Linked DNA regions of Homo sapiens. The protein of the gene in region 2 interacts with the protein of the main gene of each other region in a pairwise test. Each region holds a gene or a part of one and is shown on either strand. Other genes may lie near its edges.

Region 1 (7,026 bases), on a different chromosome or scaffold from region 2:
CTCCGATTGTGTGTGGCAGATTGGGGCCCACCAGCATCACAGATGAGGGCACTGAGGGGCTCCGGGAGGAAAAGATGCACGTCCAGGATCTCACAGCTGGTCAAAGGCACAGCCAGGCTCTAATGGTGTTCCCCTGACTCCAGGTTCATTGTTCTTTCCTGGATTCGGTCCAGATTAACCCAGCACTGGCTTGTCAGAAATCCTCAAGGGCTTCTAGTTGCCTGGAGCTGAAACCTGCAAACTTTTCTGAGCTTGCATCCCTATGAGTGAAACTTTCTGCACACACTCTCCATTATGTGTCCATTTAAATTATTTCTAAAGTATTTGCATGTGTTAATGTACTCTCACAGTCTGTGCATTAGAAAACATTCAAATGCCGTGTAAAGGTGAGATAAAGCCTGCGTAGTGGCACGCTCCTGTAGTCTGAGCTACCCAAGAGGCTGAGGCAGGAGGATCGCTTGAGCCCAGGAGTTCAAGTCCAGCCTGAGCAACACAGCAAGACCCACCTCTTAATAAAACAAATAAGAGGCCGGGTGTGGTGGCTTACGCCCATAATCCCAGCACTTTGGGAGGCCGAGGCGGGCAGATCACGAGGATCGGGAGATTGAGACTATCTTAGCCAACATGGTGAAACCCCTTGTCTACTAAAATACAAAAAATTAGCGGGCGAGGTGGCATGTGCCTGTAATCCCAGCTACTTGGGAGGCTGAGGCAGGGGAATCACTTGAACCCGGGAGGCGGAGGTTGCAGTGAGCTGAGATCGTGCCACTGCACTCCAGCCTGGTGACAGAGCAAGACTCTGTCTCAAAAAAAAAAAAAAAAAAAAAAAAATCAAGACCATCCTGGCCAACATGATGAAACCCCGTCTCTACTAAAAATACAAAAATCAGCTGGGCGTGGTGGTGCGTGCCTGTAGTCCCAGCTACTCAGGAGGCTGAGGCAGGAGAATCACTTGAACCCAGGAGGCGGAGGTTGCAGTGAGCTGAGATCATGCCACTGCACTCCAGCCTGGCGACAGAACGAGACTCTGTCTCAAAAAAAAAAAAAAAAAAAAAGAAAGAGATAAATATATTACAAACACAAATAAATAGAAATAATAGCAATAGAAATAGGGTCGTTAATATTTTCTCCCTGCCTCTGGGGATTAGCCTGTGAGTACCGATGGAGTACACGTACATCCTTGCCTTGGAGACAACAGGCCTGGAGAATAAGCAACTCCTGGATGTGGTACAGGGTGTTCTATCATCTAAGCCTTCAGCAGCTTTTTTCCTGCTGCCCACAGAGCACTGTTAAGGTGCCAGAAAGGCCACAACCATATTCAACTTTACATCTGTGCCCACACTCCCTGTCATCCTTTCCTCTCTCCCCCTTGTCAAATCCCCCATGTTGATGAACTCCAAACCAAAACCCAGATCCTCTGCAAAGCCCTCCTCGCCTACCGTGACCCGGGCATTTGTACCAGCCATTCTGCCTCTGGATCTCAGCCTGCTTTGTATCTCCACTAAACTATCCTGCTTGGCATGCCACATCTCATTGAGCACTTAATGCAGGTACCGTTATTATTTTTTTATTTTTGAAGAGACGGAGTCTCGAACTATTGCCCAGGCTGGTCTCAAACTACTGGCCTCAAGCAGTTATCCTGCCTCAGCCTCCCAAAATGCAGGGTTTACAGGCATGAGCTACTGCAACCAACAATTACTTCCATTTTATAGCTGGGGAAACTGAGGCTCAGAGAGGTTAAGTAATTTTCCAGAAATCACACAGTAAATGGCAAATGGATTTGTACCCAGGCCTGACTTCCGAGTCTAACTGTAAGCACTAAGCTACATGAAACAAGGTTGGCCTCTTTCATTCCTGTTGATTCTTCCCAGCACCTAGCATAGAAATAAATATATATATAAAAAATAAATTGCTGAATAAATGATTGAATGAATTAATTACCCAGGCCAACACCAAGAAGCCTGGGGAAAAGAGCCCACTTCATTCCTGATACAAAATGTATTACCTCCTGTACCTCAAGAGTCCTGAGCAAGACTTTAAACTTCAGATGTGGCTGAATCTGGATGCTCAGATATCATCACTGAGATTCTGTCTCTCTAGCTCTTGGTTTGGCCATCTTCTGTGCTGGTGGCATCTTCAGGCAGGCTCTGCTAGTAAATCCAGGCTCATGCCCTGCCGATTTAGCACCTCCAACAGAAAGAGGGATCATCTGATGGCTCATCACACCAGCTTAGGTCGCAAACCTTTACCGGATCCTATTGCTGTGGCTGGGGGCTGGGATGAGCAGCTTGGTCAGTTCTTGATCACTGAAGCAGGAGGGTGGGTGGCCCCACACAGATCACAGGAGCTGAGGTAGGAGCAGGGGATTGGGATGCTGTAACGAGGAAATGGGAGAACGAATATGGGAAGACGTGAATATCAAACGTCCACTTGGCTTCATCTCTTGCAGGACCTGGTGGACTGGCGAAAGCCTCTCCTGTGGCAGGTGGGCCACTTGGGAGAGAAGTACGATGAGTGGGTTCACCAGCCGGTGACCAGGCCCATCCGCCTCTTCCACTCAGACCTCATTGAGGGCCTCTCTAAGACTGTCTGGTGAGCTCTTCCCTGAGCCTGTGGCAGGCTGTCCCTCTCTTCTGACGGTGCCAATCAGATATGGAAAGGGAGGGGGCAATTGAGTCCCTCCCCAGAGCCCAGGTCTATGCTGTAAAGCTGTCAGGGAGGGAGGAACATGCCATGGGAATAATTCATCCCTATGCATGGTTTTGTCCACTGGGTGGGTCACAACCCAGCATGTAGCCAGAAACTACATTGAATGCCACCTCTGGTCTATTCCAGACTCTTATGAGGAGTTTCTTGCCCACGATGCGCATGGGAACAATTTTGCCTGCAATTAGCTCCTCTGCCACAAGAGGTCAGCATCTGACCAGTTGCATAGAGTCAGTAGCCCTGGGGACACAGTTCTTTTCTGCCAGTAACTCATCTCAGAGACAGGAGGCAGATGGACTCACAGCCTCTCTCCTCTTTTCTCTTCCCCACTCCCTGTACCAGTGTCCCTTTGACCCCAGGTCTCCATAGGCATTCTGCATATGCTTTGGTGTCATCTTGTCCCCAATCCAGTTGAGTTATGTGTCTCTAAGAAAGCTGGACCCTGCCGGGCATGGTGGCTCACGCCTGTAATCCCAACACTTTGGGAGGCCAAGGTGGGTGGATCACCTGAGGTCAGGAGTTCGAGACCAGCCTGACAACATGGTGAAACCCCATCTCTACTAAAAATACAAAATTAGCTGGGTGTGGTGGCACATGCCTGTAATCCCAGCTACTTGGGAGGCTGAGGCAGAAGAGTCACTTGAACCCCAGAGGCAGAGGTTGCAGTGAGCCGAAATCACGCCATTGCACTCCAGCCTGGGCAACAAGAGTGAAACTCCGTCTCAAAAAAAAAAAGAAAGCTGTACTCTGTCAAGCTCCTGTGCATGTATCTCTCTCACCCTGATGGCCTTCCTGCAGGTACAGTGTCCCCATCATCTGGGTGCCCCTGGTGCTGTATCTCAGCTGGTCCTACTACCGAACCTTTGCCCAGGGCAACGTCCGACTCTTCACGTCATTTACAACAGGTAATGCCAGTTTCTTTCCTGACTTGCCCTGAGGATCCTAGAGGGAGGAGACCTCAGTGCTTTCCCTGGCCCAGAGTTTCTGAGAGCACAGAACCCCAAACTACATCACAGACATTTTTGGTGAAGCCTCTCTGTAGAAATAGTCTTCCAAAGAAGAATTTTGTCTGACTCCCATCTACCCCCCAAATGGATACAAAACCCAACAACACATCAGCAGAAACTAAATGGAATCATCGGGTGGCATAGCAATAAAAAAAGAGAGAGAGAGAGATTGAGTGCCTCTCATTGAGTGTCACACCAAAAGACACATGATGTGGGATTCTTTGCTAAGAAACTAAATGAAATCACTTCATCGGGTGACACAGCTGAGAGCTAGACTCGGACTGGCCTATGAACCCAGCACAGATTAGCAGAGAACTTGGGAGAGAAAGATCTGGGAGTGTCCTAGAGTGTGTCCAAGGCAAAGGCTCAGGCAGCAGACCCCCAGACTGGGAGTAATGGCCCACTAACCTCTATGGGACACTTGCCATGTGCGGGGCCACGTGTTCTCCCAGGACCGCCTCATTTACCCCTCCCAGCAGCCCCATAAGAAGGGTCCTGTCATTATCCCCTTTTAGAGCTGAGGAAATGGAGCCTCAGAGATATCAAGGGAGTAGCTGAAAGGCGTGTGGCTAGGATGTGGATACCAGGTGCGCCCCAGCTTCTAGCTGGGGGGCAGAGGATGAAAAGACAGGCTGATATGGGGCAGTGTCTAAAGAGCCTATGAGACTGGGGTTTAGGATGACTGTGGGTTTAAGTATAGCCGCTGGGACAGCCAGCCCCACAAGCATCTTGCCTACCTTGGGCCTCCAGGTACATGCCACCTGCCCTGTGGTCTGTCTGTCCTGGCTCTGAGCTTCCTGAGCTGCCCTCACTCTGCCAGGGGAAGCTCTTTTCCCTGCACTCTGCAAGTCAAGTGCCTGAATGGTTGACATGAGAGGGGCCATGGTCACGGCATCAGGAACTTCATTTATCCACCTGACCCAGGATGAGTCTGGTGAGCGAGCTGCAGGAAGTTCCCCCAAATCCAGCCCAGAGCTCCTCCCGGTCACCGAGGGTTACTGCAGGCATCCCTCGAGCCATGGTTGCCCTGTTCTGCTCACGCTGAATAGCTCAGGCACAGCACGGAGCTTGTTGCTCAGAAGGCCTGCTCGCTGAATCACCCACTGTCCGCCCGGCACTCCCCTAACAATCACAAACAGTGGCAGGGCCGCCAGGGCTGGCAGCCGGAGGGGGAAGGGGATGCTGAAGCTTTGGCCCAGGTCCCTCCGCCGGATTCCTCCAGAGATGCCACTCAGTACCAGCTCCGGCCGGATGGGCAGACAGGGGTGATGCTGGGGTGAGGGGGCGGGCAGAGGCTTGACCTATAGGAGAGGTCTTTCCTGCATGGCAGGGAGGATGATTTGAGGGCTCTATCAGCCACACGGCCTTGGCAGAGAGCTAAAATGTGCCTGTCTTATAAAGGTCCAGTGTAGAGGGTTAGTAAGCCTGTGACCATGATGCCAGTGATGGGGGCATGAGAGATAACGTCTCCACGTGCCTCCCTCAGCCCCCAGCTTGTCATGCAAGGCACAAGCCACAGGCAGAGAAAATAAGAGCCCACAAAGCAAGGCAAGGGGAGACTCGGCGGGATCCTAGTGCAGCTGCTGGACAAAGGACGCACTGGAATCAATACAGAAGAGTCAGGGTGCCAAGAAGCAGTGGAAGCTGAACGCAGACACCAGTTCAAGGCTGACATTCCTAGATGCGCACATGAAAATGCTTTCAAAAGCTGAGGAGACGGGGGAAAGGGGGCGGCGCTGCATACTCAGGATGGCTCCAGAGCAGCTTCTGAGAGCACGTTAGAGCGAGTGGCATCCCTGAGAGGAGGGGAGGCAGGCTTCCAGTGGGGTGGTGTGCGGGGCCCGGCAGAGGCCAGGACCTTAGTCTGCGCCGGAGAGTGCTCCCGTACGTCCAGTCCTTTCCTTACCAACAAGAGAGCTAAGGCCAGGCACGGTGGCTCACGCCTGTAATCCCAGCACTTTGGGAGGCCGAGGTGGGTGGATCACCTGAGGTCAGGAGTTTGAGACCAGCCTGGCCAACATGGTGAAACCCAGTCTCTACTAAAAATATAAAAATTAGCCAGGCATGATGGTGTGTGCCTGTAATCTCAGCTACTTGGAAGGCTGAGGCAGGAGAATCGTTTGAACCCAGGAGGCAGAGGTTGCAGTGAGCCAGGATCATGCCACTGCACTCTAGCCTGGATGACAGAGTGAGATTCCGTCTCAAAAAAAGAAAATATAATATTAATATTATTATATAATACAATGTATATACTCATCATATAATCAGATACTCTGTTACCTCCATCCTAACTACACCCCTCCAAGATGGGTAGGGTGTTTCCCTGAGGAAACTGTAACACCTAGGCGGTGCTGAGCCAGGATTTGAATCCAGGTCTGCAAATCCAATGCCTGTGCTCTCTGCACTTCACCGGAATGACCTTATGGACCCCAGAGGTATCAGGGTTTCTCTGGAAGCAGGGTCTCTCACCAACCAGACCAGCCCAGCTAAGACTCCATGGGAGAGGGGTCACTTGAACCTGACTCCTTTGGTAATATGTGGATGTCAGTAACCACAGCCTCCCAGGAAGGAAACCCAAGAGGAGGTGGGCGGGAAGAAGGAGGAAGACGGTTGGCCTCATTTGGGAGGTGTTCACGGTGGGGACTGTGGACAACCACATGGAGCTGTCCAGTAGGGCGTGGCCACCCAGGGTGGAGTTGGTGTAGAGCTTCGGTCGTCAGCATGTGGGAGAGGAAGGGATTGAGCTGAGAGGCAGAGGGTCCAGGTTTGGACCCTGGGGACAAAGGGCAGAGTTTCCAAGATGGAGCCTGAGCAGGGAGATCCAGGGAAGAGGAGAAAAGCCAAGTGTGGCGGCAGGCAGAAGGGGGAGCTATGGATTCCAACCTTATTGCTCCCGGATCCTTTGAGAATTTGAGAAACTGTGGACACAGTACAGAGAAAAAATGCCCATAGGTGTACAATTTGATATATTAGCAAGTTCACAGACACTCTGCAATCCAACGTAGTACCCTCGGATATTCATAAGCCTCAGGTTAAACGCCTAGGCAGCTGCAGATTGAAGAAGAGAGTAGAGCTAATGTCATATGCCACAGCCAGCTTAGAGGTGGACTAAAAAATATGCTTAGATTTGGCAAGAAAGACATCATGAATAGCCTTTGAAGTTCTGGTGGTTTGGGGCAGAAGACAGATTTTTTTTTTTTTTTTTTTTTTTGAGATGGAGTTTCACTCTTATTGCCCATGCTGGAGTGCAATGGCACGATCTTGGCTCACCACAACCTCTGCCTCTCGGGTTCAAGCGATTCTCCTGCCTCAG
Region 2 (7,278 bases):
TTATTTTATATATATTTTATATATATATAAAATCTTATTTTATATATATTTTATATATATATAAAATCTTATTTTATATATATTTTATATATATATAAAATCTTATTTTATATATATTTTATATATATATAAAATCTTATTTATACAGCCATTTTTCTAAATAAAAAATACAGCCATTTTTCTAAAATATAATTTTTTCTTTTAAACTTTTTTTCCTTTTCCCAGGGGGCAATGCTTCACTGATATAAATAATGATGTTATAAATATTTCCTTTTTTTTTTTTTTTTTGAGATTGAGTCTTGCTTTGTCACCCAGGCTGGAGTGTAATGGTGTGATCTCAGCTGACTGAAACCTCTGCCTCCTGGGTTCACGTGATTCTCCTGCCTCAGCTTCCCGAGTAGCGGGATTATAGGCGTTTGCCACCATGCCCAGCTCATTTTTGTATTTTTCACCGCGTTCATCCAGCTGGTCTCAAACTCCTGACCTCAGGTGATCCACCCTCCTTGGCCTCCCAAAGTGCTGGGATTACAGATGTGAGCCACTGCCCCGGCCATTATTTTCATAATTTAGCTTTCTTCTTTTAAAATGTTTCTTTAGGATAATTCATCATATGTGAAACTAAAAAGTGAAAGGAAAACTATTTTGAACTTCTTGGGCTCTACTGTCTTAGTGATCTTTAAAAAGATAACATAAATTTATAAATATTCCAGACTTATATGTGAATATGGCAGTTTCAAGCAAAATTCACTACCATTGAATAATAAAGCTTATTTTAGAATCATTTAGATTTTGATAAGAGTTAAATAATACCTAAAAGTGGTTTTCATTTTTATTTTTTATTATTAATGTAAGAGAGAGATTTCACTGTAATTGTCTGTCATACATTGTTCTTCTTGGGTTATTATCTATTCATATTCACTGCTTATACATCCCCACAGGTTTCTTTTACCTAAGCATGTGAATCAGCTCTTTATGTTTAATACATATTTACCATCTGTCTTTTCATACTTGACATGCATTCGTTTTCCTAAGATTTTTCCCTATTTAGTTTTTTTATCATATTCTTTCTTTTTTCTTTCTTTCTTTTTGTTTTTGAGATGGAGTTTCGCTCTTGTTGCCCAGGCTGGAGTGCAATGGCGTGATCTTGGCTCACCACAACCTCCGCCTCCTGGGTTCATGTGATTCTCCTGCCTCAGACTCCGGAGTAACTGGGATTACAAGCATGCACCACCACGCCCGGCTAATTTTGTATTTTCAGTAGAGACAGGGTTTCTCCATGTTGGTCAGGCTGGTCTTGAACTCCCGACCTCAGGTAATCCACCTGCCTTGGCCTCCCAAAGTGCTGGGATTACAGGCGTGAGCCACCGTGCCCGGCCCATCATATTCTTAAGGCCAACTTTATCTTCAACATTTGGAATAAATAATAAGCTTGTGATCCTCCTTATTATATAAAATAATAACTTTGATTTTTGTAACAGCAGTTGAATGTGTATATAAAATGAAAATTAAATTAAGATTATTTGTGAAACTAACAGCTTTATGCTTAAGGAACCCGTCTGTAAGACAGATTTTAGTAAGAAATGGAAATATTTATATTGTGCCTGATGTCACTGATATTCATCCTTGGTAGCAAAGAAGAAAGAGCATCAACTTTTGAATCTGAAATCTAGATTTGAGTATTGACTGTGACATCATTTAGCTGTGTGATCTTAGGCAAATATTTTAACTTATTTGAATTGAACTTTCTTTAGATATGTAAAATATGATCACAATATAAATTTAAAGAATTATTGCGAGAATTAAAAATAATTTTTGTAAATTGCCTGGTACACAGAAAACCATCAATATATGAATCCCTGTTATTTTAAAATATCACTTTTTTTTTAAATATGAGCTTTTCTTATTTTGTTCTCACGGAATCTTCATGAGGTACAAGTAGTATTTTCTCCATTTTACAGGTTAGGGAACTGAAATGTGTAAGTAACTAGTCAAGTTACTCAACTAGGGAGCAGGGGAGCTGGAATTTGAACACAGGCAGTCTACTCCCAGAAGATTAGCTCTTACCCACTGCATAAAACGGCTAATCACTGCATAAAACATCTGTAATCTCAGTTCTATGGTTTTTCTATAAGTATTTTTACCTGGTCAGTGCAAATGCCAACCTCCCATTATATGCTGTGTGAATCTTACTTAGTCTTCAAGATTAATCAGATTTCTAGCATCTCCATGAAGATTTATTTTTGATAGACTTTTTTCACATAGAAGTAATTTTGGCCTCGCCTATATTTTCATAGTAATTATCTATAGCATTTTCATACTACTTAAGGTGCTAGTAATTATCTATAGTACTTTCATACTACTTAAGGTGCTCAAATTACATTATGCCTATTTGGGGATATGTTTTAAATCATAAGATTCCGGAGCACAAAAAGAACTATATCTTATTTTTTGTATCCTTTCCCCACATCTAGTTCAATGAAGTGCATATAGTAGATACCCAGCCAATATTTGCTATATAATCAAGGGAAGATAATAAAAGGCATTAGATTAAAGCCAAAAATGTTCCATGAAAAGTTATGAAAGGAGAATAGGTGAAATATGTCAAATTATACTTTGAATAAAACCAGTATTTTAAACAAAATATGCTTAATTATATGAAAAAACCCCATTGCTGGTTCAAACTACAAAGCATTTAGTGTATTTCATATGTACTTGTGAACATATATGTTTTTCACTCATGGAAAATTTAGCAGAAATCCCTATTTTTTGATTATCGAAAAAAACCAAACCAAATTATTGCTGATACAATAAAGCATTCATCTCATCATACACACACAGACACACAAATATATATCACACACATGCATGCACACACACACACAGAGTACACACATAACAATCAATAGAAACAATTCTGGAAAAAACATTAAAATAAGCCTTTTTTTTTCTTTACCTTTCGTCCTAAAGAAAGCAGCACTGATTTATCCACTTCTCTCTCTTTACAATTGAAACCTAAAATCTTTATCTCATAGTATTTCAGCATCTGGTACATGAAGAAAGGAAATGACACATTCCTGCGTTGAAAATCTTTCTTAATGTGTTTCAATAGCACTCTCATCAATGCACAGGTTTGCAAAATCTAAATTTGTCAGATAACTCACTCTTCACCCCATTTAGGCCGCTTTAAAAAAAAAAGAGAAGTGAAAAGGAAAAGAAACAAGGGTTGTTGAAACAAGCACATAATTTACAGCAGATTGAGCTTTCCTTTTTTTTTGGAGATGGAGTCTCGCTGTCTCACCAGGGTGGAGTGCAGTGGTGTGATCTCCGCTCACTGCAACCTCTGCCTCCCAGGTTCTACAGGCGTGTGCCATCACACCCGGCTAATTTTTTGTATTTTAGTAGAGACAGGGTTTCGCCATGTTGGTCAGGATGGTCTTGATCCCCTGACCTCATGGTCCGCTCGCCTTGGCCTCCCAAAGTGCTGGGATTACAGGCGCGAGCCACCGTGCCCAGCCTGATCTTTCCTTTTTTATAAGTAATCTATGCCTTCTAAAACATACATTAATTCTCATGATCTCCTCTTTCACGTTACTATAATGTTGAGTAAAGACTCCATGTTTGGCTAGGTGTGGTGGCTCATGCCTGTAATCCCAGCACTTTGGGTGGCCGAGGTGGCTGGATCACTTGAGGTCAGGAGCTCTAGAACAGCCTGGCCAACATGGTGAAACTAGTCTCTACTAAAAATACAAAAATTGGCCAGGCATGCGCCTGTAATCCCAGCTACTCGGGAGGCTGAGGCTGAAGAATTGCTTGAACCCAGGAGGCGGAGGTTGCAGTGAGCAGAGATCGCACCACTGCACTCCAGCCTGGGCAACAGAGTGAGACTCCACCTCAAAAAAAAAAAAAAAAAAAAAGACTCCATGTTTAGAGATTCGAGTTTTTTTCTTAGATCCTTTTTCCTGTACCTTTATCCCTAGCCTCAAACACAAAACACGTGAAGAAAGAATATGATGCCTTAGTAAGAACAAGTAATAACCTAAAAGCACTCACTCCTGTTCTCTCTATAATGATAATAGCATTAATTTTTAGAGCACCAGACAAGTTGTTTATTTCCAGTAGTATAGTAGAGGGAAGGAATCTCAGGCATGGATCAGATGAAAGGGATGTTCTTTCCCTTCTGCCATCCATCAGGGTTTTATACAATTCAACTCCGTTATTTACTCACATTCAAGAAGTTCAAGTATGACTCACATGAAAACGTTCAACATTACATTAATGAGCTAAGTTTTACAACTGATATTTCTGGGAGAAGGTGTTTAGCTTATATTCCGTAGTCACTCTTTTGTGCCCAAACAGGAGAAATCATGCTTCCTACCAAAAGATGCCCCAAATTGCTGTGCCCATGGGCACCATCCTTCAGAAGACAATACGTCTGCAAGAAAGTATGCGGGAACAGCGCACGGTCTTTGAGAGATGCAAAGTAACAGTATTATTCAGTTATTCTTAAGGTAACCACTAAAAGGCTAATAGTAGTAGTAGGACAGGCATCAAAGTAAGCTGCATAATTTCTAACCAGGCAGCTTGAAGACTAGAAGTACGATCACAATTTGATCCAGCCTGGACCAGCATAAATGCTATTGGCTATTCCTCATCAAATTCTTACTGACACAGAACTGGAGACTACAAAACTCACACTCTTTCCTTTACAATTATTTGTACATGCTTCTTATTTTAAAATATAGTCCTTTTAGGTTTTTTTGTACAAAATCTGAAGTTTAAAATTTAGATATCCCTGACAATGCTACGTGATTAGAAAAGTCAGACTCTGGGAATAACAAGACACCAATCTCCCAAAATTCTATCCTAATGAGGTTTCTTTCTGTCAGTGTGCTTTATTTTCAGTATGTCTCTGTAATACTGTTTGGTGTATATCCACAGTGCTGACCACTTCCCTATGTGATGATTTCCACACTCTTCAGCCAATCTAATTTTTCATTAAAAAACTTCCCTTTTTATATGTCTAAATAGGTACTATATAATTTTATATAGTTTTATATATAATAATTATAGATTATGTAACATAATATTATCTATTAGGTCTTACTATATGTAAAAACACCTTTAGCAGGGAACCATGTTAAAAATGTTCAGTTCAAGCCAATGATTAATTGAGAACAGAGGTAATATGTAAAGGGTTGGGATTTTGCATTCATTCCTTCATTTGACTTCACAGCAACTTTGTCATATCACTTCCCTAATTGAGAAATTAATGTTTAGAGATGGTAAGTAAATTTCTCGAGATCAGAGTTATGAGTCATCAGAGCTGGTATTTAAACCCAGTCTGATTACAAAATTTGGCAAAATATAGTTTTTTCTTAAGCTGAAGTAGGTATATGTATTATTAGGGGACTATAATATCTCCATCAAAAACAGTATACAGAAAACAAGCCACAAATATGGGCAAATTCCAGATCATGTGGATAGTTACTTTGTTCATAGTTATTGTGATGGATCCCAATTACTTTATTTTTGTTGCTTATGGATATATGTGTCTAGAATGAGGTCCATGTAAGATTATGCCCAGTGACCAAACAGAGATTCATAATCAAATAGGCAAATGGCTTGAGAGAATTGATTCAAATGTCCTAGGACTCACTGTGGTACAGGTATACTGAACTCAAAAGAAGAGTTAACATTTTACACTCATTAAGAGGTATTTTTGTATGTCTAAAGTTACAGCAGGTTGTTAGTCATAATATATAGTTAATACATTATGACTTATTTATTGTATGATATATATATGATAAAGTTTCGAGATAAAATTTTTCATGTTCTTAATTCAAAGCAATAAGTAAATAGTGATATAAATACAGATTTTAATAATGCTGCAACGGACACATATTGCTGTGGGATTATAAAGCATTTACAGAATTATCAAAACATTCTTTAATAAAATTGACATTGAAAAATTGCATATTGGCAGAGCTTTTTCTTTGATAATCATAAGCAGAAAACTGTGAAGGTACCAGTAACATTTTATATAGCCTTATTAAACAGAACTTTCCTATATGAGAATTATTGAAGTCAAATACAGAAACAGACCAAGGACAGTATCAGAATTGAATAGTATCTTCCTTCTATTAAACCTATAATAATATTTTGGCTTGCCCACACAATCTTAAATTGGTGGTGTTAGTTAAAATTTTAATTTTTTTGCGAGATTTTAAAATTTAATTAACATATGCATTATATTTCAAAAACTTGGTTAAGAACTGTAGGCTTACAGTGTTTAGGTCTAAATTCGTGTTTCTCTATTTTAACATAAAATTATAATAAAATAATATATCAACACTTAATAAGGTATAGAGATCAATATATTTATTTTCTTTTGAGAAACACTGCACTATGCCATACTGTCTATTTTTAAAAGAAAGTTCATGGAAGACTTCTAGTTGCAGCTTCAACATCTAAAGAGCTTGGAAGTCATCACTCATATCTCGACACCACGAAAAAAGCTGGAGAAACTAAAAATCAATGACGTCTTGGACCCATCAGAGAACTGAGGTCTCAAGGAAACTACCAGCCTGAAACCGGGAGAGAGAGGAGATTACAGAGCATCACAGCAGACACCAGATCACCTGCAGCTGATGCCAGTGGAACCACAAACTGGCAGGAACACCTAAGCAGGAATTTGGCAAGAGGCTGAGTATGGACCAGTGTGAGCACTGGAGCCTCCTGGGGGCTGCAGTCTTCAAGGCGCCCCCTAAACACTTACAGGCTTTACTTCCAGGAATACAACTTGGTTCTCACAGTATATACCAAAAAATATCACCTGATGTCCCTGGCAGAGAGAAGGGAAATCTAATGATTTTAAAATATACGTAGAGCATTTCCTGTAACAAAGGCTTACTCCCCAGTGAAAAGAGTTTATCAGAGCGTTATCTTAGCTAGGCAGCTGAAGGGTAACTATTCAATGCTCGCTCCCTCTAGTCTTCCAGCTGCAGTTCAACTTGGCAGAGAAAAAGGAAAAAAAAAAAAAAGTTTAGAAACGCTCATGAAGGTCACAGGTCACAGTCCGGGGACAAGGGCCCACTAAAAGACTGAGATTTAATCAGAAGACTATAGAACACCTCACCCCGCCCCCACATCTCACCCCTCCGTCAACAGAGCTCCCGTATGATAACAGTGGATGACAGGTGAAAGAGATGCAAGGTTTTTTTTGAAAGGGAAGTTTGTAGGGGAACCTAAATACAGTAGAGGCAACAAAGAGACACTACA

The links. The genes of interacting proteins can lie anywhere in the genome.
Region 1: the proteins of MSR1 (region 2) and FA2H interact in binary tests that used the Homo sapiens proteins (3 or more experiments, as listed by UniProt).

What each region holds. Positions count from the first base shown.
Region 1 is NC_000016.10:74,722,810-74,729,835, reverse strand, and holds part of FA2H (fatty acid 2-hydroxylase), read left to right. Parts: intron 1-2,449; coding exon 2,450-2,592; intron 2,593-3,504; coding exon 3,505-3,611; intron 3,612-7,026. UniProt on the Homo sapiens protein: Catalyzes the hydroxylation of free fatty acids at the C-2 position to produce 2-hydroxy fatty acids, which are building blocks of sphingolipids and glycosphingolipids common in neural tissue and epidermis.
Region 2 is NC_000008.11:16,189,645-16,196,922, forward strand, and holds the start of MSR1 (macrophage scavenger receptor types I and II isoform type 1), read right to left. Parts: upstream 3,008-7,278; 5' UTR 2,954-3,007; intron 1-2,953. UniProt on the Homo sapiens protein: Membrane glycoproteins implicated in the pathologic deposition of cholesterol in arterial walls during atherogenesis. Two types of receptor subunits exist.